Regions from separate parts of the Homo sapiens genome. Here region 2 is linked to region 1. Evidence: fine-mapped expression QTL. A gene starts in region 1. The other region holds a variant in brackets. All regions are shown on one strand. Distances are from middle to middle. Region 1 holds the start of ENTPD7 (ectonucleoside triphosphate diphosphohydrolase 7). Region 2 overlaps DNMBP (dynamin binding protein).

What was found.
Region 2: its variant is fine-mapped to the expression of ENTPD7 in tibial nerve (GTEx, PIP 0.97).

The regions. Positions count from the first base shown.
Region 1 is chr10:99,657,068-99,662,446 of GRCh38, forward strand. ENTPD7 (ectonucleoside triphosphate diphosphohydrolase 7) reads left to right here and starts at 2,442. Exons shown (of 13, transcript NM_020354.5): 1 at 2,442-2,521; 2 at 2,795-2,897; 3 at 4,379-4,561. The coding sequence starts at 2,890. It also overlaps a transcript of SLC25A28 not described here. RefSeq lists silencers at 2,121-2,330, 2,451-2,670.
Region 2 is chr10:99,889,639-99,895,017 of GRCh38, forward strand. DNMBP (dynamin binding protein) reads right to left here. Exons shown (of 17, transcript NM_015221.4): 11 at 5,308-5,379. Among named protein-coding and RNA genes, the nearest start is that of DNMBP-AS1, 35 kb to the right of the region's middle. RefSeq lists an enhancer at 1,490-2,349. The variant G/A (reference allele first, on the strand shown) is at 2,268.

The DNA.
Region 1 (5,379 bases):
TCTTTTCTGTTTTATGATGTAGTTATGAAATGTAAATTAGAGGATGTTTCAATGAACTTTTGAATTATAAGTTAATATAGTTCATAAACCATAGGAATTAAGTACTATTTTAAAAATAGGAATTATACTTCCACTCAAAAACACCTATTTTGTGGAACACTAAAGTTTGAAATATATATGTATAGAGATTAGACTTAGAACTCACAGAAGGTAAATTCAAGAAATTTTTAAAAATTACTCCAAAACATTATTTTAGTTCTTTCCATATCTATTTTGTTCTAGGAACTGAACTGGGTTCTGAAATAATAAAAATAACTGGTATCTGTATAATGTTGTGGTTAATCCCAACTTTATGCAACTATTCTATTCAATGTGGTTTCTGGGGGTCCAGATAAAATATAACACTTGAAGCAGAGTGGGGATTGAGGGACAGAGAAAAAAAAACTGAGAACTGAGAATTGAAGAAGAAAGGCAAATTAGGAAGTTCAACAAGGTTAGGAGAGTAGTGGAGCCAAAAAAACAATAGTCATGAGAACTGAATATAGAAACTGGACAATGGCTAGATCTTATATGACAATTAGAACTCTGACCCACAACCTCTACAGCAACCAGCCGAGAATAATCAGGACTTGGTCAATGACTCAGTTTCCCTGTTTTTTGCCGCCTCCTTTCTTCAACTCAGAACCCACTAAAGACAGCCAAATATGCTACCTACCCCAAACCAATCACCTAAGAGACACTACTTTTGTTAGCCCACCTCCAGCTTTCCCATGCTAATACCCTCAAGTCAGAGTATACATGAAACCTTCCCTTTTTGTTCACTACTAAGCTTTCCTGGCCAGGTGCAGCTGCTCATCCCTGTAATCCCAGCACTTTGGGAGGCTGAGACAGGAAGACTGCTTGAGCCCAGGAGTTCAAGACCAGCCTGGACAACATAGTGAGACTCCATCTCTACAAAGAATTAAAAAAAAATAAGCTGGGCATGGTGGCACGTGCCTGTAGAGCCAGCTACTCAGGAGGTTGAGGTGGGAGGATCGCTTGCTCAGGAGGTCGAGGCTGCAGTGAACCACGATCGCACCACTGCACTCCAGCCTGGATGACAACAGAGTGAGACCCTGTAGGTAATTAAGTAAGTAAGTAGTTTTCCTAATGTCCTGACAGGCTTTGAGTCGGCCAAATGCAAGTGATGGTGACTGACTCCCTTGTCATAGTAAGCTTTGAATAAATAAAGCATTTGGGTGGTCTTCCTCCCCGATCCCCCCCATTCATTCATTTGCTTATTAATTATACATTAGTTGTGTTTTATCTGCCAGGCAGTGGCCAGTATTGGGAATATGTGGAAGCAAATAGTCCCTGCCTTCAAGGATATTCTGTCTAGTGGGACAGACAGACAGACATATACGTATAATAGTAATTCAACGTGCTAAGTGAAACAATAGGCATGTATAAAAAAGGTGTAGTAGGTCAAGTAGGGCTTTTAGGGGAAGGCGACCCTTAAGATGGGTGGTAAGGGATGAGTAGGAGGTGATTTGGCTAAGAGGCTGGGACGGTTATTCAAGGCAGGTGGAGGGGCAGAATGAGCAAAACAGGACGCGTTGCTGGAGCGTGGTAAGGAAGGCAAGTAGCGGCAGAGGACGGCGGTAGGGCGGATCGTGGGGCGCAATGGATGTGCCACGTTGGAAAGAGCTTGGACTTTATGCCGTCCTCCTGGAAATGAGATAACGGCTGGTGTAAGCAAGAAAGAAACACACACACACCCACGCGCGCGCGTCGTTTCCTTTGTGTTACTGTAAGGTCAAGGAGGGCGGCGACACAGAAATTCATGATGACTGGCATAAGCAGACATTCAATGAATGAATGAATGGACATAAGCACTTTGGTGTAAACGTCATTGTCTTCGATTTCTGTTTTCTCACGGGGCAAGACAGTGAGGTCGGGGCATCAGTTTGGGAGGTGATAGGGAAGGTTTAAGGTGAGAGAACTGCCATTCTGGTAGGGAGGGTCAGTGGGCACAAAACCAACAATAGGTTATGGGCAAGGGATGCGCTTCGGTCGCGAACACCCTGAACCCACCTACCGGAGCTACTCTGTCCCAGGAGCGGCCGTGGAGAAAGCAACCAGCCGAGAGTTCGCGCCCCAGGGAGGGAAGCGGGCACAGGGCCGCCCAGCGCCACTCACCTGTGAGCTCTCCGCGGGCCCTGCAGGCGGAGCCTCGGTACGACGCCTTTCCGATTGGGCGCGGCTCAAAGTCCCGGGGCGGGCATCAGAGGCCGAGCGCTCTAGGGGATTGGCCACCCTGGCGGACGGACGTGCTGCTGACCGAGCTGGTTCGCCCCCGGTTCGGCTCGTGGAGAGCCGGCCCCTCCGTGAGTCTTCTGTCAGTCATTGGCTCCCTGCGGTTTCCTTGGGGACGTGGCGCCGCCGCCGGCCGGGCCCTCCTTCCGGCTGGGCAAGGGGCCGCGGGGAGCAGCTCGGGACTGAACCGAGAGGTGCCGAAGGAACCGGCGGGCCGCTTGATCCCGTGAGTGTGGGCGCGAGAGGGCTGTGGGACCCGGAGGGACGGGGAGAGGAAGCGGGACCCACACCCCGCCACCTGGGGACGACCGGTTCCTAGAGGACAGAGCTGGCCCACGAGAACGCCCCGCTCCCAGGATGCCCGGGTAGGGTCCCCTGGGCCTGAGGAACCAGAGCAGACGGAGCGGGAGCCTGGGGAGGAGGTGGGAGCCGTGGAATTCCCGTGCAGGTTTGTCTCGTGGGCTCAGTCGGACAGAAGCCTGAAATCAAATCTTTCTAGGCTGCAGACGTAGGAGATGCCTGGGACAAGGAGGCCACCTTCTCAGGGCAAAAGAAAAAGAAGGTGACAGGCGTTGAGACCACCGAAGGGAACCCATGGCTAGGTAAGGCTGCACACTTTCCCTCCGGCTGGGAGCACGGCAGAGGATGGCAGGCAGGTTGGGGGGCCCTGGGAGGCTGTCCCAAGTGAGGTTTGCCCTGGAGCTGCACTTGGACTTTGTATTCTGGTTAGTTGGATGCAGAGACGATCAAAGTTGTATTATTTCGAGGGCTGATAAATAATAGTTTCTAGCCCATAGACCAGGAGTGGTAGAGTGAGTCGGCTTGCTCAGCTCTGTAAAGTGCAAGGTTGTAACATTGATTCAGATTCGCATCTGAGCAAGGCTAGGTGCCACTTGAGGAGGTTAAACAAAGAAGTTTTTTTGTTTTTTGTTTGCAGTGAACTTTAAAAGCAGACAGACCGAGGTCCTTTTGAATCAATATACAAAGTGAACTTCACAGATGAATACACTTATCCATACATTATAATAACCTGAAGCTTTTAAAAAATATTAATGTGGATCTACATGCACCAATAAGGGAAAGTTATAAAATAAAGTGGGGGAAAGATGCAGAACAGCAGGTATGGTGGACTACCATTTGTGTAAAACCGAGGGAATGGATACGCACACACACACACACACACACACACACACACACACAGAGATATATTACTGTAAATATATTGGTGTATATTTATGCTTGTGTATCCGTAGAATATCCCTGGAAAGATACACAGCAACGGCCAGGTGCAGTAGCTCACGCCTGTAATCCCAGCACTTTGGGAGGCCAAGGCAGGCAGATCACCTGAGGTCAGGAGTTCAGGACCAGCCTGGCCAAGTAGAAACCCGGTCTCTACTAAAAATACGAAAATTAGCCGGGTGTGGTGGCAGTCACCTGTAATCCCAGCTACTGGGGAGGCTGAGGGAGAAGAATCGCTTGAACCCAGGAGGTGGAGGTTGCAGTGAGCTGAGATTGCGCTACTACACTCCAGCCTGGGCAACAGAGCAAGACTCCATCTCAAAAAAAAAAAAAATTACACAGCAACTGGGTAGTAATGTTTGCCTCTGAGAGATTGTGGGGTCAGGGCAAGAATCACTTTTCACTATACAATATATCCTTTTAAACTGATTTGTCTTTTACTATGTGCTTGTATAATCTGGTAAAACATTTTTAAAATCAGTTAAATAAATTTTCTGACCATCCTGTTTCTTGACAGAATTCTTGGTTGGGAATACTGTAGTTGCTCTGATTCTCCAATGTTATGAGGTTGCCCAGGGAGACTGGTGATCTTTTCACTAACATGAGATTAAGTCTTTGAATTGCACTCAAAGTGCAGTTTGGAAAAAGGGCAGATAAGGCTTTTCTGATATATATAGTAGAAGCACCATGAGCTTCTTCTAAAATTAGAGATGACAAGAACATTTAGACTTCTGTTGGCATGGATTTTTGCCTTTATTAGGAGGGTTTTATCCAATTTTAAAACGATATTTAAGCACTCAGTTGTAGAAATGTTTCAGACTTACTAATGTTTGTCTAATTTCAGGATCAGTTTTTCCTACCTCTGCCCAGCCTCCTGGTACTTCACTGTGCCCACAGTGAGTCCATTTCTCCGTCAGCGGGTGGCATTCCTGGGACTCTTCTTCATATCCTGTCTCCTTTTACTTATGTTAATCATAGACTTTCGACATTGGAGTGCTTCATTACCACGAGATAGGCAATACGAAAGGTGAGTCAGCTTTAGATTTTGGCACTCAAGTCATAAATATTTTCATAAGCTGTTTAACACACTACTGACTTTGACCCTTTTGGGTGATACTGTACTTTTATTAGTAAAATTGCATGCCATTTATTACATAAAGAAGATTTTAAGCCCTATTTTGGCAATATGCAGTTTGGTACAGGAATACTGATACTGCATGAAAGGCATCTTTGTGTTTTCTTGTTTTGGTGGGCTGAAACTTATTGTGTGTATAAATGTTTAGGACTGTATTATACCTTTATGAATGGACCCCTTTATCATTATTAAATGATTTTCTTTATCCTTGATTATATACTTTGCTCTGAAATCTACTAGTCTGGTATTAATATAGCTACTCCAACTTTCTTTTGATTAACATTAGCATGACAGATATTTCTTCTATAGTTTTAGTTTTAGCCTATTGGTGTCTTTATATAAGTGGGCTTCTTGTAGTCAGTGTTTGGTTGGGTCTTGTTTTTTTATCCAATCTGACTATCTCTGCAGTTAATTGGGGTGTTCGGGCCATTTATATTTAATCTGATTATTTAGTATGTTTAGTTTTAATCTTGCTATGTGTTTTTCATTTGTCACATTTGTTCTTGTTCTTTTTCCTCTTTTTCCCTCTTCTTTTCAGTTGAGCACAGTTTTTATGTTTCCATTTTATCTCTCATGTTGGCTTATTAGATATAACTTCTTCTTTTTTTAGTGGTTACTTTAAAGTTTATAGTGTCATCTTTAATTATCACAATCTTCCTTCAAGTAATATTACTCCTCTTCACATCTAGAACAAGAACCTAACAACAGTA
Region 2 (5,379 bases), 230 kb after region 1:
GCTTTCTTTCGAGACCAGCCTGGCCAGCATGGTGAGACCCCATCTCTACAATGCTGGGCTGTAACCCAAACAAACTAAATACTCCATTAGTCTATTTCAAGGGCAAAAAGAGAAAAGTCTAAGACTTTTAATTCTTAAAAAACTGTTGAGGGCTTTTATCATCTCTTTGGCATTCCCCTATGTCCCTAATAGGGATTCTTAATTTAACAAAAAGTAAATTATCAAATTAGAACCAAGATGATTCCTATAGGATTAGGATAATGACCAGTTACCTCTCCTTCCTCAAGTCTTGGTTCATGCTGTCACCGTCTCAAAGACAACTGCCCTGCCATGCTACTGATCATCACAACCTGGTTTCCCATTCCTAAGCAAAGTCCCTAAGCAAAACCATCAGTGCCTCATACATTGGTTTGATGCTTTATTTTTATATCATTTTTAGACCTTTTGTCTTTAATATTTATATCTGTATATATAAAGCCAGGGCTTCGTCAGTAAGATAACCCAGGGAATGTTGCTAATTCCTCTTGAGTGGGAGATCTAATGTGAAAAGTGATGTCCTCTTGTTTTCTTTTAAAGGAATGTTATAAAGTCCCCAAATATCAGCCCATATGCCAATGTAGATACCAAATTATCCAGCCAATGGCCCTCAGCTTATGTTCTTGCTGGTTTTCTCGCTGTTAGTCAATCTAATTTTATTATTGGGCAGGCTTTTCATTTTGTGGCATGACAAAACTATTCAACATTTTCTCTCAATTTCTGTCAGCAGTCAGAACTAAATTGATACTTCCATCAGATGGTTTTCAACATTACATATATCCCAACCCAAAATGTATCAGTCACTGCTATGGAGGTGAGCCTTTTAAGGGCTGAGGGCTCAGGTATATAGTGTCACACTTTAGAAAACCTGGGGAGAAAATGGCCAACAGAGGGATATCAGCATGAGAGGGATATTAGGGGAAAGTCCTATGAAGCAGCAAGACAAAGAAACATACTCAGTAGCTGCCCCAATTGTGTGTTTTATTTTTCTTGAGATGGAGTCTCACTCTCACCCAGGTTGGAGTGCAATGGCATGATCTCAGCTCACTGCAACCTCCACCTCCCGGCGTCAAGCAATTCTCCTGCCTCAGCCTCCTGAGTAGCTGGGATTACAGGTGCCTGCCATCATGCCCAGCTAATTTTTGTAGTTTTAGTAGAGACAGGGTTTCACCACGTTGGCCAGGTTGGTCTCAAACTCCTGACGTCAGCTGATCTGCCCACCTCGGCCTCCCAAAGTGTTGGGATTACAGGCATGAGCAACTGTGCCCGGCCCTAGTTACATTTTTAAAACACAAGGGTGGAAGTTGGCTATTTACTCAATAAATGATAGGCCACTGGGTAACCAGCTGGAAAAATAAAGTTGAATCCCTGCTTCAAACCTGATTTACTAAAGTCCAGACAGAGCAATGATTTAATCTTAAAACTTAAAAAAAGATTTTAAAATCTTAAAAAATGGAATGATAAAAGTACTAGAACTCCCTCTCCCTCTCCCCCTCTCCCTCCCCCTCTCCCTCTCCCCACCGTCTCCCTCTCTTTCCACGGTCTCCCTCTCATGCGGAGCCAAAGCTGGACTGTACTGCTGCCATCTCGGCTCACTGCAACCTCCCTGCCTGATTCTCCTGCCTCAGCCTGCCCAGTGCCTGCGATTGCAGGCACGCGCCACCACGCCTGACTGGTTTTGGTGGAGACGGGGTTTCGCTGTGTTGGCCAGGCCGGTCTCCAGCCCCTAACCGCGAGTGATCCGCCAGCCTCGGCCTCCCGAGGTGCCGGGATTGCAGACGGAGTCTCGTTCACTCAGTGCTCAATGGTGCCCAGGCTGGAGTGCAGTGGCGTGATCTCGGCTCGCTACAACCTACACCTCCCAGCCGCCTGCCTTGGACTCCCAAAGTGCCGAGATTGCAGCCTCTGCCCGGCCGCCACCCCGTCTGGGAAGTGAGGAGTGTCTCTGCCTGGCCGCCCATCGTCTGGGATGTGAGGAGCCCCTCTGCCTGGCTGCCCAGTCTGGAAAGTGAGGAGCGTCTCTGCCCGGCCGCCATCCCACCTGGGAAGTGAGGAGCACCTCTTCCCGGCCGCCATCACATCTAGGAAGTGAGGAGCGTCTCTGCCCGGCCGCCCATCGTCTGAGACGTGGGGAGCGCCTCTGCCCCGCCGCCCCATCTGGGATGTGAGGAGCGCCTCTGCCCGGCCACGACCCCGTCTGGGAGGTGAGGAGCGTCTCTGCCGCCCCGTCC[G/A]GGAGGGAGGTGGGGGGGTCAGCCCCCTGCCCGGCCAGCCGCCCCGTCCGGGAGGTGAGGGGCGCCTCTGCCCGGCCGCCCCTACTGGGAAGTGAGGAGCCCCTCTGCCCGGCCAGCCGCCCCGTCCGGGAGGGAGGTGGGGGGGTCAGCTCCCCGCCCGGCCAGCCACCCCATCTGGGAGGTGAGGGGCGCCTCTGCCCGGCCGCCCCTACTGGGACGTGAAGAGCCCCTCTGCCCGGCCAGCCGCCCCGTCCAGGAGGGAGGTGGGGGGGTCAGCCCCCTGCCCGGCCAGCCGCCCCGTCCGGGAGGTGAGGGGCGCCTCTGCCCGGCCACCACCCCGTCTGGGAGGTGTGCCCAACAGCTCATTGAGAACGGGCCAGGATGACAATGGCGGCTTTGTGGAATAGAAAGGCGGGAAAGGTGGGGAAAAGATTGAGAAATCGGATGGTTGCCGTGTCTGTGTAGAAAGAAGTAGACATGGGAGACTTTTCATTTTGTTCTGCACTAAGAAAAATTCCTCTGCCTTGGGATCCTGTTGATCTGTGACCTTACCCCCAACCCTGCGCTCTCTGAAACATGTGCTGTGTCCACTCAGGGTTAAATGGATTAAGGGCGGTGCAAGATGTGCTTTGTTAAACAGATGCTTGAAGGCAGCATGCTCGTTAAGAGTCATCACCAATCCCTAATCTCAAGTAATCAGGGACACAAACACTGCGGAAGGCCGCAGGGTCCTCTGCCTAGGAAAACCAGAGACCTTTGTTCACTTGTTTATCTGCTGACCTTCCCTCCACTATTGTCCCATGACCCTGCCAAATCCCCCTCTGTGAGAAACACCCAAGAATTATCAATAAAAAAATAAATTAAAAAAAAATACTAAAACACGAGAATTTTTAAATGTTGGAACAGCAAAGTCCTTTCTACATATGACACAAAACTAAGAAGCCATAAAATGCAAGTTTAAACTCTTAAGCGGAGAAAACACTTTAAGCAAACTCAGAAGTCAATAAACTGAGGTAGGGGGAGGACATCTGCAAACCATCTCAGACAAAGGACTATATCCTCCAATAGATACAGAGATCAACAAACTGATAAAGATGCCAGAATATAGGTAAGTCACAGAAAAATATAATGATATAGACATATAAGAATATTCTCAACTCCATTCCTAATATAAGAAATGACAATTTAAACTATATTGAAATATTTTTTACCTCTCTTGCAGGCAAAGATAAAACCCACTGGTTTTGATAACACTGAGTTAGCAAGGGATATTGCTTGTGGAACTTTTCACCTTTACAACATCTCTGACATTTAACGGTAGTTGTCAAAATTTATACTGCCACAAGATTTGGCTCAGAAGTACACTGGCCTTCAGACAGACTCACATAGATCAGAAAATGATGTATCCACAAGGATATTCCTTGTATGACTAGTTCTAATCTTTTCCAACTACAAGCGATTTAAATATCTGCCAACAGGGGACTAGTTAAATATATTATGACTTGTCCACAGTGATATACTACGCAATTGTAAAGAACAATGGACCAAGGCCAGGCGCGGTGGCTCACGCCTGTAATTCCAACACTTTGGAAGACCAAGGTGGGTGGATCATGAAGTCAAGAGATCGACACCATCCTGGCCAACATGATGACACCCCGTCTCTATTAAAAATACAAAAATTAGCTGGGCGTGGTGGTGTACGCCTCAGCTACTTGGGAGGCTGAGGCAGGAGAACCACTTGAACCCAGGAGGCGGAGGTTGCAGTGAGCTGAGATTCTGCCACTGCACTCTAGCCTGGCGAGAGTGAGACTCTGTCTCAAAGGAAAAAAGAACAATGGGCCTCTGTGTGTATGGCTACATCACTTCTGAAATTTGATTAAGTGTGAAACCCAAGATGCTAGTGTATCTCCCACCTACACACACATGAAATCTCTGATAGGAGGGAAGAACTTAATGGATGGTGACTGTCTCTACAGAAGGTGACAAGGTAGGAGGAATAATTATTTTTACTTAGCCCTTTGGTACCTTTAAATTTTATACCATTTTATTCAGTTTAAAAACTTTTTTTTTAAAAAAGTTAAGGATCCCTTTTAAGGAAATTCTTTTATAAGATCAGATATTCAGGCTGGACATGGTGGCTCATGCCTGTAATCCCAGCACTTCGGGAGGCCAGTTTAAGACCAGCCTGGGCAACATAGTAAGACCTCATCTCTGCTTAAAAAAATTAGCCAGGTGTGGTGGTGTGCACCTGTGGTCCCAGCCACTGAGGTGGGAGGATTGCTTGAGCCCAGGACTTGGAGACTGCACTGAGCTATGATGGCACTATTGCACTCCAGTCTGGGTGAGAGAAAGAGACTCTGTCTCTAAAAGATCAGAGGGACAGGAGTATCCAGTACACTCACAGCATCCTATATTAAATCAATAGAGAAATTAGAGACAAGAATAGAAAGGATGGTGGTGCTGGTTCTGACCTCAGGGAGGAAGCATTGCTTGAGGCAAGGAAAGACCTAGGCTCACCTGATCTCCTTGGCTTCTCTAGATCTCAAAGCTGTTTATGGCTCTAATACCTTTAGAGGCCTTATTATAGCAACTGAATATTAATAAATTGGGAGCTGAAGTGATCAGAAAGCATACCACATAGGAACATTCTCTTACTCGTATTCACTGCTTGTTCTTTCTCGTTTACGTTTCCTGTTTACAGCTTCCTAGCTTTTGCATTCAATATTTGATTTTCAAACTGGTTTTGATAAAATGAACTGTAATAAGTAAAAGAAAAATAAGGTGTGTGTGGGATGAAGGGTGATGAAGACCAAAAAGAGGGTGGAAAAAGTTGGGCTGCTTTGAAATGAATGTGACAACATTGATCTAAATGCTATTACTGTTAAATAACCTACTGGCATCTCAACAAAAAGTATGATGGGGCATAATAGTAATTTGAGTCCAGATTACTCAGCATTCATTAAACAATATGACTGATGAACAGGAAAGGGGACAGAATTACATCGTATGTTAATCTAACTACAGTGATGTTGATGCTCACCCGGATGTGCTGGAGGTAGAGAGACAGGTCTCGGATAAAAGACTTAATCAATCTTTCTTGCATTCGGAAGTT